Regions from separate parts of the Homo sapiens genome. Here region 1 is linked to region 2. The links come from fine-mapping of genetic effects on gene expression. A gene starts in region 2. The other region holds a variant in brackets. All regions are shown on one strand. Distances are from middle to middle. Region 1 overlaps LOC101927329 (a long non-coding RNA gene). Region 2 holds the start of RORB (RAR related orphan receptor B).

Region 1 (8,126 bases), 270 kb after region 2:
TGCAAGAGGTTTTGATGTAATTCTGAAATCTGTTTTTAAAAATTTTCAACCACCATCAGAACTGCAGCTTCCAGTTTAGAACAATGTTTCTCTCCAGTATAATTTGATTCTGTACTCTTGGCTTTTATTGATGTGTCTGAATTGCGCCAGGTAACTAGCAAGGCAATTTCCCATGTTTTTACTAATAGCCATGTACTTTCCTGCTCAAGATACTGGCTTTCTTGTTTATGTTTTTCTATGATATGGTGTACAATCAAAATCCTGGACACATACTCTTCTTGTTTCTGATCAAATTCAAGTACTTTTCCATCAGGTTTGACTTCAAAACCTCTTGCACATTTTACACAACTTTAAATAACTTGTAAATTTAGCCAATTTAAAAAATAAATAACATATATTTGCTTTTATATTTTTTACCAAAGACACACCTAATTTTTGTTATGCTTTCTATATAAACCTGAAGTCAAAACAGGCTTCCCACAAAGGGACACAATCATACTCTGAGAGACGATGTTTTGTCTTTGTGTTTTGTGTGGGTAGGTGGGTTTTTGTGTGTTTTCCTTTTGGTAACTGGTGTAAGAAACAAAGATTTTATATTTTATCAAGATAATTTTCTATGTTTCATGTTGACTTAATTAGATTTTTAGATTACTTAGGAAAACTGAGCTTTGAAAGGGTTAGAATTTTTTTAAATCTATATAACTTTCTGTATTGCTTTTAAAATCTTTTTATGTTACTCTGGTGAAAATATGGCTATCATTTCACAGTGATTTGTGATTTTGTTTAGATCAGTTGTTTTAAATATTTTGCCATCTTCAACTGGCTTCCCAGCATTAAAAGTTTAAATTAAGTCATTTTGAGATAGAGTTAACTTTGAGGTTTTCAGTTGGTACCCTGGAGAGCCCCACGGGATGTGTCTCTCATCTTGTAGAGATAGTAAACAATTAGGATTATTTGGTAAATTGTAAAAAAAAGCATTGTCAAGTGATAAGTGATGCTAGATCTTTTTGTAACATTTATGACTATGTTATTGATAATAAATGCTCAAAAATTGTATAAAATTCTTTGAAATTTTATATGACATCAGTCATAATTATACTTCTTATGTAGTACATCACAAATAACCAAATTTTCATGTCAACTGCTGATTATAATAAATTTCCACCAAATTTTTAACAAATTATTTATTTATTTAATTTCAGTAGATTTTTGGGGAAACAGGTGGTGTTTGGTTACATGGATAAGTTCTTTAGGTGTGATTTCTGAGATTTTGGTGCACCCATCACCCAAGCAGTGTACACTGTACCCAATGTGTAGTCTTTTATCCCTTGCCACCTCGCACTCCCCCAAGTCCTCAAAGTCCATTTTATCATTCTATTCCTTTGTGTTCTCATAGCTTAGCTCCTATTTATAAGTGAAAACATACAATGTTTGGGTTTCCATTCCTGAGTTACTTCACTTAGAATAATGATCTCCAGTTCCATCCAGATTGCTGCAAATGCCATTATTTCACTCCTTTTTATGGCTGAGTAGTATTCCATTATGTATATCTATATAACTATATCTATATAATAGATTTGCTTTTGGGTTCTTGGTCATGAAGTCTTTGCCTAAGACAATGTCTAGAAGGGTTTTTCCAATGTTATATTCTATAATTTTTATGATTTCAGATCTTAGATTTAAGTCTTTGATCCATCTTGAGTAGATTTTTGTGTAAGGTGAGAGATGAGGATATGGTTTCATTTTTCTACATGTGGCTTGCCAATTATCCCAGCACCATTTGTTGAATAGGGTGTCCTTCCCCATTTTATGTTTTTGTTTGCTTTGTTGAAGATCAGTTGACTGTAAGTGTTTAACTTTATTTCTGTGTTCTCTATTCTGTTCCATTGGACTTTGTGTCTATTTTTATGCCAATACCATGCTGTTTTGGCAACTACAGCCTTGTAGTATAGTTTGAAGTTGGGTAATGTGATGCCTCCAGATTTGTTTTTTCTGCCTCATCTTGGTTTGGCTATATGGGCTCTTTTCTGATTCCACATAATTTTTGAATTGGTTTTTCTAGTTCTGTGAAGAATGATGATGGTATTTTGATGGAAATTGCATTGAATTTGTAGATTACTTTTGGCAGTGTGGTCATTTTCACAATATTGATTCTACCCATCCATGAGCATGGGATGTGTTTCCATTTGTTTGTGTCTTCTATGATTTCTTTCAGCATGTTTTGTAGTTTTCCTTGTAGAGGTCTTTCACTTCCTTGGTTAAGTGTGTACCTAAGTATTTTATTTTATTTTTTATAGCTATTGTAAAAGGGCTTGAGTTCTTGATTCGAGTCTCAGCTTGGTTGCTGTTGGTGTATATAGCAGTGCTACTGATTTTTTACATTTATTTTGTAACTTTACTGAATTTTTAAATCAGTTCTAGGAGCTTTTTGGATTAGTCTTTAGGGTTTTCTTTTCTTTTCTTTTTGAGATGAAGTCTTGCTCTTGTCACCCAGGCTGGAGTGCAATGGCCTGATCTCAGCTTATTGCAACCTGTGCCTCCCAGGTTCAAGTGATTCTCCTGCCTCAGCCTCCTGAGTAGCTGGGATTACAGGCGTCTGCCACCACACCTGGCTAATTTTTGTATTTTTAGTAGATATGGGGTTTCACCATGTTGGTCAGGCTGGTCTTAAACTCCTGACTTCAGGCAATCCACCCACCTTGGCCTCCCAAAGTGCTGGGATTACAGGCTTAAGCCACCATGCCCGGCCATCTTTAGGGTTTTCTAAGTGTACAATTATATCATTGGTGAACAACAACAGTTTGATTACTTGTTTGCTTGTTTGGATCCCCCTTATTTCTTTCTCTTGTCTGATTGCTCTGCTTAGGACTTCTGGTACTATGTAGAATAGAAGTGGTGAAAATAGGCATCCTTGTCTTGTTCCAGTTCTCAGGGGGAAAACGTTCAACTTTTCCCTATTCAGTATAATGTTGGCTGTGGGTTTGTCATAGATGGCTTTTATTACCTTAAGGTACATCCCTTCTATGCCAATTTTGCGAGGGCTTTAATACTAGAACAATGCTGGATTTTGTCACATGCTTTTTCTTCATCTATTGAGATGATCATGTGATTTTTGTTTTTATTTCTGTTTATGTGGTGTATCACATTTATTGACTTGGTATGTTAAACCATTCCAGCAACCCTAGTATGAAACCTACTTGATCATGGTGAATTATCTTTTTGATATGCTGTTGGATTCAGTTAGCTTGTATTTTGTTGAAGATTTTTGCATCTATGTTCATTAGGAATATTGGTCTGTAGTTTTTGTTTTGTTTTGTTATGTCCTTTCCTAGTTTTGGAATTAGAGTGATACTAGTTTCACAGAATGATTTAGGGAGGATTCCTTTTTTCTGTATCTTGTGGAATAGTGTCAACAGGATTGGAGCCAATACTTTTTTGAATGTCTGATAGAATTCAACTATGAATCCATCTGTTCCTGGACTTTTATTTGTTGGCAATTTTTAAAATTACCATTTCAATCTTGCTGCTTGTTATGGGACTGTTCAGAGTTTCTACTTCTTCCTGGTTTAATCTTGGAGGGTTGTATATTTCCAAAAATTTATCCATCTCCTCTAGGTTTTCCAGTTTTTGAGAATAAAGGTGTTCATAGTAGCCTTGAATGATCTTTTGTATTTCTGTGGTATCAGTTGTAATATCTCCCTTTTTGTTTCTAATTGAGCT[T/C]ATTTGGATCTTCTCTTTTCTGTTCTTGGTTAATCTCGCTACTGGTCTGTCAGTTTTGTTTATCTTTTCAAAGAATCGGTTTTTTGTTTCATTTATTTTTTGTATTGCTTTTTTTGTTTGTTTCAATTTAATTTAGTTCTTCTCTGATCTTTGTTATTTTTTTTCTTCTGTTGGGTTTGGTTTGATTTGTTCTTGTTTCTCTAGTTCCTTGATGTGTGAACTTAGATTGTCTATCTGAGCTCCTTCAGACTTTTTGTTGTAGGCATTTAATGCTATAAACTTCCCTCTTAGCACCGCTTTTGCTGTATCTCAGAGGTTTCGATAGGTTATGTCACTATTATCTTTCAGTTCAAAGAATTTTTAAATTTCCATCTTGATTTCATTGTTGAACCAATGATCATTCAATAGCAGGTTATTTAATTTCCATGTATTAGCAGGGTTTTCAGGGTTCCTTTTGGAGTTGAATTCTAATTTTATTCCACTGTGGTCTGAGAGAGTACTTGATAGAATTTTAATTTTCTTAAATTTATTGAGACTTGTTTTGTGGCCTATCATGTGGCCTATGTTAGAAAATATTCCACGTGCTGATGAATAGAATGTGTATTCTGCAGTTGTTGGGTAAAATGCTTTGTAAATATCTGTTAACTTCATTTGTTCTAGGGTATAGTTTAAGTCCATTGTTTCTTTGTTGGCTTTCTGTCTTGATGACCTCTCTAGTGCTGTCAGTGGAGTACTGAAGTCACCCACTATTACTGTTTTGCTGTCTTTATAATTTCTTTTTTTTTTTTTTTGAGACAGAGTCTTGCTTTGTTGCCCAGGCTGGAGTGTGGTGGCACGATCTTGGCTCACTGCAACCTCTGCCTCCTGGGTTCTAGTGATTCTTTTGCCTCAGCCTCCCGAGTAGCTGGGACTACAGGCATGCACCACCATGTGTATTTTTAGTAAACATGAGGTATCACCACATTGGCCAGGCTGGCCTTGAACTCCTGACCTCGTGATCCACCCACCTCAGCCTCCCAAAGTGCTGGGATTACAGGTGTGAGCCACCATACCTGGCCTATCTCATTTTTTAGGTCGAGTAGTGATTGTTTTATAAGTTTGGTAACTCCAGTATTAAGTGTGTATATATTTAGGATTGTGATGTTTTCCTGTTGGACTAGAACTTCAATCATTATTTGATGTCCCTCTTTGTCTTTTTTAACCATTGTTGCTTTAACATCTGTTTTGTCTGGTATAAGTGTAGCTACTTCCTCTAACTTTGGGAATAATTTTTCCACCTCTTTACCTTAAGTTTATGTGAATCCTTACCTGCTAGGTGAGTCTCTTGAAGACAGCAGATGGTTGGTGAATTCTTATCCATTCTGACTTTCTGTATCTTTTAAGTGGAGCATTTAGGTCATTTATATTCACTGTTAGTACTGAGATGTGATGTACTATTCAATTCATCATACTAGTTGTTGCCTGAATACCTTTTTTTTTCTCATTGTGTTATTGTTTTATAGGTCCTGTGAGATTTATACTCAAGAAGGTTCTATTTTGGTGTATTTCAAGGTTTTGTTTCAAGACTTAGAGTGCCTTTTAGCAGCTCTTGTAAAGCTGGCTTGGTAGTGGCGAATTCTCTCAGCATTTGTTCATCTGAAAAAGCATTTGTTCATATGAATTCTCTCAGCATTTGTTTCTTTCATTTATGAAGCTTAGTTTCCCTGGATGTAAAATTCATGGCTGACAATTGTTTTGTTTAAGGAGGCTAAAAATAGGACCCCAATCCCTTCTAGCTTGTAGGGTTTCTGCTAAGAAATGTTCTGTTAATTTGATAGGTTTTCCTTTATAGGTCACCTCATGCTTTTGCCTCACAGCTCCTAAGATTCTTTCCTTCATCTTAACTTTAGATAACCTGATGACTACGTGCCTAGGCGATGATCTTTTTGCACTGAATTTTCTGGTGTTCTTTCAGCTTCTTGTATTTGGATGTCTAGATCTCTAGCAAGGCCAGAAAAGTTTTCCTTGATTATTTCCTCAAATGTTTTCCAAACTTTTGGTTTTCTCTTATTCCTTGGGAACACCAATTATTTTTAGGTTTGGTTGTTTAACATAATTTCAAACTTCTTGGAGGTTTTGTTCTTTTTTTTTTTGCCTTTTTTATTATTATACTTTAAGTTCTAGGGTACATGTGCACAATGTGCAGGTTTGTTACATAGGTATACATGTGCCATGTTGGTTTGCTGCACCCATCAATTCGTCATTTCATTAGGTATTTCTCTTAATGCTACCCCTCCCCTAGCCCCCCACCCCCCAACAGACCCCAGTGTGTGATGTTCCCCTCCCTGTGTCCATGTGTTCTCATTGTTCAGTTCCCTCTTATGAGTGAGAACATGCGGTGTTTGGTTTTCTGTCCTTGTGATCTTTTGCTGAGAATGATGGTTTCCAGCTTCATCCATGTCCCTGCAAAGGACATGAGCTCATTCTTTTTCATGGCTGCACGGTATTCCATGGTGTACGTGTACCACATTTTCTTTATCCAGTCTATTATTAATGGACATGTGGGTTGGTTCCAAGTCTTTGCTATTGTGAATGGTGCCACAGTAAACATACGTGTGCATGTGTCTTTATAGTAGCATGATTTATAATCCTTTGGGTATATACCCAGTAATGGGATTGCTGGGTCAAATGGTATTTCTGGTTCTAGATCCTTGAGGAATTGCCACACTGTCTTCTACAATGGTTGAACTAGTTTACACTCCACCAACACTGTAAAAGTGTTCCTATCCATGCTCATGGATAGGAAGAATCCATATCATAAAAATGGCCATACTGCCCTAAGTAATTTATAGATTTAATGCTATCTCCATCAAGCTACCACTGACTTTTTTCACAGAATTGGAAAAAAACCCTTTAAATTTCATATGGAACAAAAAAAGAGCCCGCATAGCCACATCCTCTCCAGCATCTGTTGTTTCTTGACTTTTTAATTATCACCAATCTAACTAACTGGGGTGAGATGGTATCTCATTGTGGTTTTGATTTGCATTTCTCTGATGACCAATGATGACAGGCATTTTTTCTTATATCTGTTGGTTGCATAAATGTCTTCTTTTGAGAAGTGTCTGTTCATATCCTTTGCCCACTTTTTGATGGGGTTGTTTGTTTTTTTCTTGTAAATTTGTTTAAGTTCTTTGTAGATTCTGGATATTAGCCCTTTGACAGATGGATGATTGCAAAAATTTTCTGCCATTCTGTAGGTTTCCTGTTCACTCTGATGATAGTTTCTTTTGCTGTGCAGAAGCTCTTTAGTTTAATTAGATGGCATTTGTCTATTTTGGCTTCTGTTACTGTTGCTTTTGGCATTTTAATCATGAAGTATTTGTCCATGCCTATGTCCTGAATGGTATTGCCTAGGTTTTCTTCTAGGGTTTTTATAGTTTTAGGTCTTATATTTAAGTCTTTAATCCATCTTGAGTTAATTTTTGTATAAGGTGTAAGAAAGGGATTCAGTTTCAGCTTTCTACGTATGGCTAGCCAGTTTTCCCAGCACCATTTATTAAATAGGGGATCCTTTCCCCATTGCTTCTTTTTGTCAGCTTTATCAAAGGTCAGATGGTTGTTGATGTGTGGTGTTATTTCTGAGGCCTCTGTTCTCTTCCATTGGTCTATATCTCTGTTTTGGTACCAGTACCATGCTGTTTTGGTTACTGTAGTCTTGTAGTATAGTTTGAAGTCAGGTAGCATTATGCCTCCAGCTTTGTTCTTTTTGCTTAGGATTGTCTTGGCTATGTGGGCTCTTTTTTTGTTCCATATGAAATTTAAAGGGTTTTTTTCCAATTCTGTGAAAAAAGTCAGTGGTAGCTTGATGGAGATAGCATTAAATCTATAAATTACTTAGGGCAGTATGGCCATTTTTATGATATTGATTCTTCCTATCCATGAGCATGGAATATTCTTCCATTTGTTTCTGTCCTCTCTAATTTTCTTGAGCAGTGGTTTGTAGCTCTCCTTGAAGAGGTCCTTCCTATCCCTTGTAAGTTGGATTTCTAGGAATTTATTCTCTTTGTAGTAATTGTGAATGGGAGTTCACTCATGATTTGGCTTTCTGTCTGTTCTTGGTTTATAGGAATGCTTGTGATTTTTGCACATTGATTTTGTATCCTGAGACTTTGCTGAAGTTGCTTATCAGCTTGAGGAGATTTTAAGCTGAGACAATGAGGTTTCTAAATATGCAATCATGTCATCTGCAAACAGAGACAATTTGACTTCCTCTTTTCCTAATTGAATACCCTTTATTTCTTTCTCTTGCCTGATTGCCCTGGCCAGAACTTCCAATACTGTGTTGAATAGGAGTCGTGAAAGAGGGCATCCTTGTTTTGTGCCAGTTTTCAAAGGGAATGCTTCCAGTTTTTGCCCATTCAGTA
Region 2 (8,126 bases):
TCTTTCTCACCTAGTGATGGGCCCAATTAAAGGTCCTCCCTTTCGCCTTCAGAAGTTATTCCTTTCAGTAATGAAATCTACGGAGAAGCCTCTCTAGAACTTCTGTGGTACCCTCTCACAGACAAAGGATGAAAGGCTTTGTGCGCCACCAAATACAACCTCCTCCGCCCCAGGCTAGAGTAAGCAACTGCGCTGTGTCCGGGACTCAGTTCAGCCGTGGGGCAGGACAAGGACGTCAAAGATCAGGGACTCTTAACCCCTTTCTTTCCCCGTAGCTTCCCTGGGGATAGTCTCTTAAATGCCCTAGGCGGGGGAGGAGTAGGGGGTGGGAATAGGTTTGCCGGATTGGCCCCGAGGGAGACCACTGAATCCCAGATCACCTTTCCGTCGCTCAAAGCGCCCTGATTCAGGACAGTTGTCAGCTGCAAACTGTGGAGCCCAGGCGCTAACTAGGACCACCTGGGAATGGAAAGCGCGCGCGTGTGGATGAGGGAAATGCAGTGGGCCCACCGTAAAGCCCAGGTCAAAAATGGCCCCTCTCCCAACATAGGGTGCTTAGTAGCCCTGCACGAGCGAAAGCTGATTCTTTTCCCGCTTTCACTTCTCAAGTTCACTCTCAAGTTCAACTCCCAACTCCACAAGACGTCAGAGTAGCCTGGATCTTTTCTCAATCCCATTCTTACGGAACAGCCTCTCATACTGTGGTAGGGCACTGTCCGGGGAAAATATGAAGAGGTAGTAAGGAAAGACACTAGGGGTCAGGAAAGGGCAACCAGGAATGGCGATAGAGTGACCTGGTCATCTTTTAAGCTTACATTTTCTCCAGCGCATTCCCCTAAGGCCGCCTGAGAGCTGCCTCAAGTTAGAAGTTGTAAGGGGTCCTAGGGCGCCTGGCGAGGCTGGCGCCCTCTTTGATAGGTCTGTGGGCTTAAACTGGTTTTCTCAAGGTGAGCATGAGGACCAGCGCCTGGCTTTCAATCCTTCCAGCTTCTGGAGTCCTCAAAGCGACCGCCGTGGCGAACCAGGACAGTCATCTGCAAACTGCTCCTTCAGGAGATGCTAGATCAAGCTACAACCCATCCCCACCCCGCGCCGCACTCCTTCTACGATGTAAGGAGTGAGCGGATTTTATGCCCTAGGTCCTAGTGCTGGGTCCGAGCTGAGGTGGCGCATAGTTTACGACGTTCAGAAAGTATGAACCCAGCCACAGGGGGAAAGTTAGAAGGGAAGAAGGGGAGGGACGAACTGGCAGCTCTGGACTGGGACGGGGGAAACCGAAAGAATGGATGGGATGGTGAGATGGGCTAGAAAAAGAAAAACAAAAGACCGGGCGTCTCTTACTAAGCCAAGGTTCTCTACTCTCCAATTGCCCAAGTATAGTTTCTTGAAAGAATTTAGACAGTGGAGCGTGTAACCAACCCCCAACCGGGACAATCAGCTGGAGCCAGCGCGCACACACACGGGTGCCCCACTCCCAGCGAGCCGGCCAATCAAGACCATCCCATCAGGACGTCCTTGTTTCTTATCTACAGTCAACCCCCTCCCCCATGGACAGTCTCTCTCCGTTCCTTCTTCTCCTTCCCTTTCCTGACACATCCCAGCGTCCAGCCAGCAAACCCTTGAGTCCAGGCTCGGGGCTCACCGGGTGCGGGAGGGAGTGGGAGTGAGACCCGCTGCCTCCTGGGGTGCTCCTCTAGGGGCGTAGGGGGACTGGGTGGGAGAGGATCACTTTCAGTGGAAGGAGGAGACCAGTGATTGCATCCCAACTCTCCCAAGTGCTCCCTGCCTAGACCACCTCTCTCCGGGTCTGGGATGCAAGAAGGTCTGGAGCTGGCCGTTACTAACTTTCTGTTGTCAAGACCCAGGGGTACGTGCGAAGGATAGAGAAGAGCCCCCGATTAACCGCTGTGTGGCCAGGAAGAGGGACTGGGAGTGGGGGTGGGTGCCCAGAGCTTGCACAGATCCCCATGTCAAGCGGACACCCGCCTGGCTCTTCAGTAAAAGAGTGAAGAAAGGCCGAGCACAGCGCGAAGGAAACCTGAGGTCTCCGGCAAGGCAGGAGAGGAGACCAAGTGACTCCCCGAAACCCACCCTCCAGCCCTTCGAGAGGCCCAGAGTCCAGCCGGAGCAAGCGTAACGCTACAGTCCCTGGCGCGCATCCCTGCAGACCCCAGCTCGCCCCGGGGTCCCGCCGCCGCCGCCGCCACCGCCTGCGACTGCGAGGGTCCTGGCCCGAGGGTGCACCAGCACCTCCTTCCACTACCGGCCCTTTATCTGACAAAAGAGCCGGAGCCCATGACTCTCCGACTGTGAGCAGTGTGGCCTTTCCAAGCCTCCAGAACTTTCTCATTACAACTTTTCCGGGGTCGCACTACTCCCTGGGCCGCGCGGGCTCGGGCACGAGGACCTGGCCAGGGCGCAGCGCCGGCACGAAGGCGCGCGCCGCAGAACTGTTTCCTCAGCCGCGTGCCGGGGAACTAACTGTTTCCTCAGCCGCGTCCAGCCTCGCAGCACTGCTCTTCTGCTTGCTACTCCAGCGAAGGGACATGCCTGCTGGCCAGGACGCTTAGTGGGCCTCGTAACCTGGCGAGTGTGTGCCCGCGCGTGTCCACCCTGCCCCCGGCCGGTGCGCCCCGCGCGCCCAAACCCGGCCGGCGACCACTGCGCGCCGGGCGCTTCCAAACTGCTCCTGTCCAGAGGCATCCCTCTTTCGGCTTTCTCCATCCCGCGTCCGCTTCCGCACCCGAGAGCGACAAGCAAAAAAGATTCAGTGCAACTCAAGGACTGGTAAGAACCAACTAGCCTGTCTCCCCTCTCCAAAAAAGCGCCCTCCCGCGTCCCTCCAGAACTCCCGAAAGACATCAACACCTTCCCGCAACTTTCTACGCCCAGGCCATTTGCAGCCCCACCTGCGAGAGCGAATTCGGGGAACTGCGCCTGGGCAACCTCTTTCCCTTTCTGCTGGGTGCCCTCCCCTCCCCCATCTCCCCGTCTGGCTGGAGTTGGCCGGACTCGGGGAGCCTCGGTGCCCGCAGACTCGCTTACCTCGCATGGTGTGGCCGCTCTCCCGCTCCGCGTAGTCATGAAGCTGCTCCCAGCCCGAACCCCGGAGAGCCCAAAAATCCCGCTCAGCACGAGTGAAGAAGGTGGTCGGCGAAGAGCTGCTCTGCCGAGAAAACCATCCCTTTAGGCGGACGCCGTGGCTGCAGGGTGACGTTTGCCGCCGCCGCCGCTATGTTAACAGTTTTGATGTTGGTGGTGACTGTTTTGATGATTGTTTGTTTGTTTGTTTGTTTTCAGGAAGGGTGAAAAAAAAATGTTCTGGCTGTCTGGTGCCTGGGTTTTGTTTTGGTTTTGTTTTTCTTTTTCTTTCTCTCCAATGTGCTTGCTTTTTAAAAAATGCCACCGCCTCCGGCTCAGAAGATTTCTTTTGTGATCACTTGGACTGAGGAGGAGGAGGAAGGGCAGCAGCAGGAGGAGGAGTTGGTGGTGGTTTTGTTAGTTACAAAGAAGAGGGAGAAGGAACAAGGGGGAAAAAAGGAAACAGAAAGAAAAGAAAGAAAGGCGGTGTGGATGGCAGAGCATGTGCGTTTTCACATGACATCTGTGCCTGTTAGCGGATCCACAATGTGAATTTTCACTGTTCAGTTACAGGGAGGAAGGGAGCAGCGAGAGAGAAAGAGAGGGGAGAGATGGAGAGAGAGCGCTGAGAGGGGCTTATACGCGAGGGCGGGCTTGGCCGCGACTTCCAGGCCCCGCCTGCTGTCAGCGCAGCCGCCAATCAGAGCCCAGCAGCGCCTGGAGAGGCTGGGACCGCGGGGAGGGGACGTGGTGGAGGCGGGGGGTGGGGCGGGGGCTGGGGACCAGGGAGTCCGAGGTGGCCGGGGCTGCGACGGGGAATTCGAGACTGTCCGAACTGGGCAGAGAAGAAGGGCCGACCGGGAGAGTCGGGCAGATCCGCAGGTGACAGGCACTTCCGACTCCAGCAGAGAAGGGGACACTGATCACGGAAAACCTTCGGAGGCAAGAGACGCGGGGCTCCCCGGGTTTCACGTTCGGTCCCTGTCTCGCAACCCCCGCGGGCCCGGCAGAGTTAGTTTTGAATTTATGGCAGCGCTTTGCCGAGCGCTATTTGGGTAAACTTCGGTCTCCGGCGGGGGTTTCCGTGGGCAGGTGGTTTGGGTGTTGGTGGTAGAATAATGCAAACCCACTTTCATCACTTTTAGCACAACTAAAATGCAGTCCCATGGAAGTAGCTGTCCCCTTCCTTTAAAAACGTCCGTCAGATGCTCCCTGACCCTCTTCTAAAAAAAAAAAAAAAAGAAAGAAAGAAAGAAAAAAACGTGTATATGTTCTTTTGTCTGGGAAATTGATTTTTATTAGCATTTGGAGACTCCCCTGGCGATGGACTACAGGACTGAAGGAGAACAGCTCAAATTGGCGGTGTAGCCACCTTACTAATTCAAGAGAAATGGCTGTTGCTAGAAGGTGTGATTGCAGGGTGCTCTTTAGAAAGGTTTTAGAAGGAAGACATTGTTAACTTTAGTTAGAGGCGATTGGTAACTGAACATAGATAAACTTACTTGTATTCCTTAGGTGAAAATTGTCATCTATGACCATTTATTTGTATTTTGATAAAAATCTAATACATATATCCAAACTGTTCCTTTGCAAGTTTTTCCAACTCAGTTGACAAAATAAGCATATAGATGATTACATCTACTTCCTTCCCAATAGTAGGGAACTTCTTAAATACTTGAGTTAATTGAACACCCTAAAAGATTGGGAGGTGAAAATATTTGCCTCATTCACTCAGTCTTGAGGCTGGGAGATGTCTACTCATTAGCATACCTGTTGGCACAGCAGGCCTCATCATCATTTAAGTATCCAAATAATTTGATTTTTGACTGGTATTTATTCATGATATGTCATGTAACACAAAGTACAATGTAGAATTGGCAGTTATTTAGTTAATTAGGTCGCTCTACACTGCCAAGTAGTTTTTTCCTTCCTGATTAAATGAAAAATGAATTATCTGCTGAATTTTCACCAGTATTAAATTGACGTAGCCCTGCTATATGCCATCCCATTTGCAAACCAATGTGTAATTTAGGAAAATTTTAGTATTAAGAGTGAAAGTTGATTGAGTCATTAATTAAATGAAATGAACAAAAGGAAGTTACTGTTTAGAATAGTTATTCCTTTATAAATATCTTTCTCCTAGATTTGTAATTGACACAGTAGTTAATCTTTTAAGATAATATTTAAGGCTCCCTGGTTTTATCATTTTTAATCAAGTAAAATATATTCATCATAACTATGTTAAAGCTGTACAAAGTTATGCCTAATTTAGTTGCTTCATTAAAAATTACTGAATATAAAATAGTCAAGAAACAAATTGTGACTATATCATTTTAATTTTGTTGCTTCAAGCAGAGACACAAGAATATTGAAAATTCCAAAGGCTTTGTAAACATTGTCTAATTATTATTGTTGTTGTTATCATTTTAGATTTCTATTTCTCTTTAGAGTGAACAGGAATTTCAAAATCCAAAAATTTAAACATTTATGTAATTTTAACTTTCTAAACATTTATTGAATTCTGAATTTTTTTTTAATGCTGCAATATCTGTAATCCTTGAAAAAGGTAGTCAACACGTGTATAAAAAGTATTTACCCCCCCATACATTTTTATATTCTCTTTATTTTGTGGTTTCAGCAAGGCATAATTTTGCTTAGAACATATTTCTTAATTCCTTCTGAGTATTTTTGGAGAAATTATTAATTAGAAGACTATATTATTTCATTTTTCAAAACTATGTATATAATCTCTATATATGGTGATACAAAAGTATGTATTTTCTCTTTAAATGCTAATCATTGGTTATAATGTGGCGGCCTGGGACATTTTGGATCTTTCTAAAAATTTAAAAACTGGTTTGTTGAATATTTCTAATAATTTTCACATTTATTTCACTGAATGGAGCCCATTTATTTAAAATAAATATTAAGAATTTGAATGAAAGAAGTCAGTATTTTCTAAGAACTCACAAAGCACATATATATAATCTGATGGTTTTGTAACCTATCTGCCAGCAAATAATCATATTTCAAGTGGCATAATAATAATACATTACTGTAATGTCCTAGCTCATATGAAGTACGGTATCAGTAATTTTATTTGAATGATTATGTCTGGTTTCCTATAAGCTTGAAACTCTGCTTTTCACTCTGGGCCTGAAGGATTTTCTAAGTTGACAGTTGCATGTTGATTAATTTAAATGACAATCAGTCACATAGCACTGTCCTCAATCTCAAGAATTGACATCAGATTCCACTTAGGCTTGCCTGCTTACCTGTTTTTCTGACACATTAGCACCCCTCAGGTTGAGCTGTACCACAGAATAGGAATGACAACAAATATCCTGAAAGAGGCAAAGTTTTAATATAAGCCAACCAGGTAGGGTGACCATGGCATTTAGGATTATTTCAATCCTAAAAGGCTTAAACAGGAAGTCATAGTTCATGTTATTCTGAGCTGATAAGTCAGAATATTCACTGGTCAGGGAATATTTTAAATAATTAAGACTCTTGAATGGACATTAGCAATACTGATAACAATGTTACTTTTAGGAATGACTGAAAGATTGGTTATGTTTAACTCTATTTAGGGAGCTGTGTGGCTGTGAAAATTGGGAAAGAGATATAAAGCTGCTATTAAATATTAGAAAAGCCAGAAAAATGTAAGAACTTTTAACATTCAAACCTTTTACAAGTGGGAAGGGAAGTACTGAGTTCCCTGTTGCTGAAGGCATCCAAAAAAGGGTTGAATGAAAGGTTCTGTTAGAGATGCTCTAGTATACAGATTTCTATACTAGGGTAGAAATTGTCTAGATTACCTCCAAGATCCTCTGTAGCTCTAAGTGTACAGTTGGCCTTTATGTCCATGGGTTCCACAACTGTGGATTCAACCAAGAGCAGAGCAAAAATAAATTGTGTCTGTACTGAACATGTACAGATATTTTTCTTGTCATTGTTCCCTAAACAATACAGTATAATAATTATTTATATAGTGTTGACATTGGCATTATAAGTAATCTAGAGATGATGCAAAGTATATAGGAAGATGTGCATAGGTTACATGCAAATACTACACACCATTTTATAGCAGAAACTTGAATATCTGTGGGTTTTGGTATCGGTGGGAGGTCCTGGAACCAATCCCCCGTGCATACCAAGGGATGCCTGCATTCACATGGACTAAAGGTTGCTACCACTGCCCCAGCAGGCATCAGAGCCACATTTCCTACCTGAGAATGCAAAATTCATGACAACAGGAGCCAGGATTTCCCTAGAGTTTGTAAGAGCTCCTGGTACTTTATGGGTGCTTGATCATTATTGGTGGAGTGAATGCTTTCTAACCTTTCAGCCACTGAATATGAATCACAAATGGAGTGAAGACCTGAATAAGATCCTTCTTTCTCAGTTTCTATTGAATGGGAAGAGGAGAGTGGGGAGAATCTGCATTTTAAACTCTCCTAATTTGGGGAAGCAAAAAATAATGGTTGAGATTGGTTATATAGTCATAAAAGGAAGCTAAAATTTAGTTATTTTCATATTTATTACTATTCTTAATTAATTTATTTATTCTTTGAAAGGAAGTCTCGCTGGAGGCTGGAGTGCAGTGGCACAGTCTCAGCTCACTGCAGCCTCTACCTCTTGGGTTCAAGTGATTCTCCTGCCTCAGCCTCCTGAGTAGCTGGGATTACAGGTGACCACCACCATGCTTGGCTAATTTTTGTATTTTAGTAGAGACGGGGTTTCACCATGTTGGCCACACTGTTCTCAAACTCCTGACCTCAAGTGATCTGCCTGCCTCAGCCTCCGAAAGTGCTGAGATGACAGACGTGAGCCACCACACCCAGCCCTATTCTCAATTTTATTCCCAGGTACTGAGTCTTCTTCATAATCTTTGAGTTCTTTAAGTTCTGCTTCATTTTAAAGTGTAGATGCAAGTTCAATAAGTTTTCAAAATAAAAAAAAGAAAGCAAATATTAAAATAGAGCATGTAATTTTGAAATAAATTGGAAAAGGTGATAAGGGCCAAAGCATGAATTAACCCCAGT

What was found.
Region 1: its variant is fine-mapped to the expression of RORB in blood mononuclear cells (TOPMed, PIP above 0.99).

What each region holds. Positions count from the first base shown.
Region 1 is chr9:74,223,186-74,231,311 of GRCh38, reverse strand. All of the region lies in intron 2 of LOC101927329 (a long non-coding RNA gene), which reads left to right. Among named protein-coding and RNA genes, the nearest start is that of RORB, 270 kb to the left of the region's middle. The variant T/C (reference allele first, on the strand shown) is at 3,721.
Region 2 is chr9:74,492,903-74,501,028 of GRCh38, reverse strand. It overlaps RORB (RAR related orphan receptor B), which reads right to left and starts at 3,694. Exons shown (of 10, transcript NM_006914.4): 1 at 3,046-3,694. The coding sequence starts at 3,052. RORB-AS1 (RORB antisense RNA 1) reads left to right here and starts at 2,476. Exons shown (of 5, transcript NR_125791.1): 1 at 2,476-2,787. RefSeq lists enhancers at 457-957, 1,016-1,792 and silencers at 3,462-3,756, 3,661-3,850, 3,846-4,058.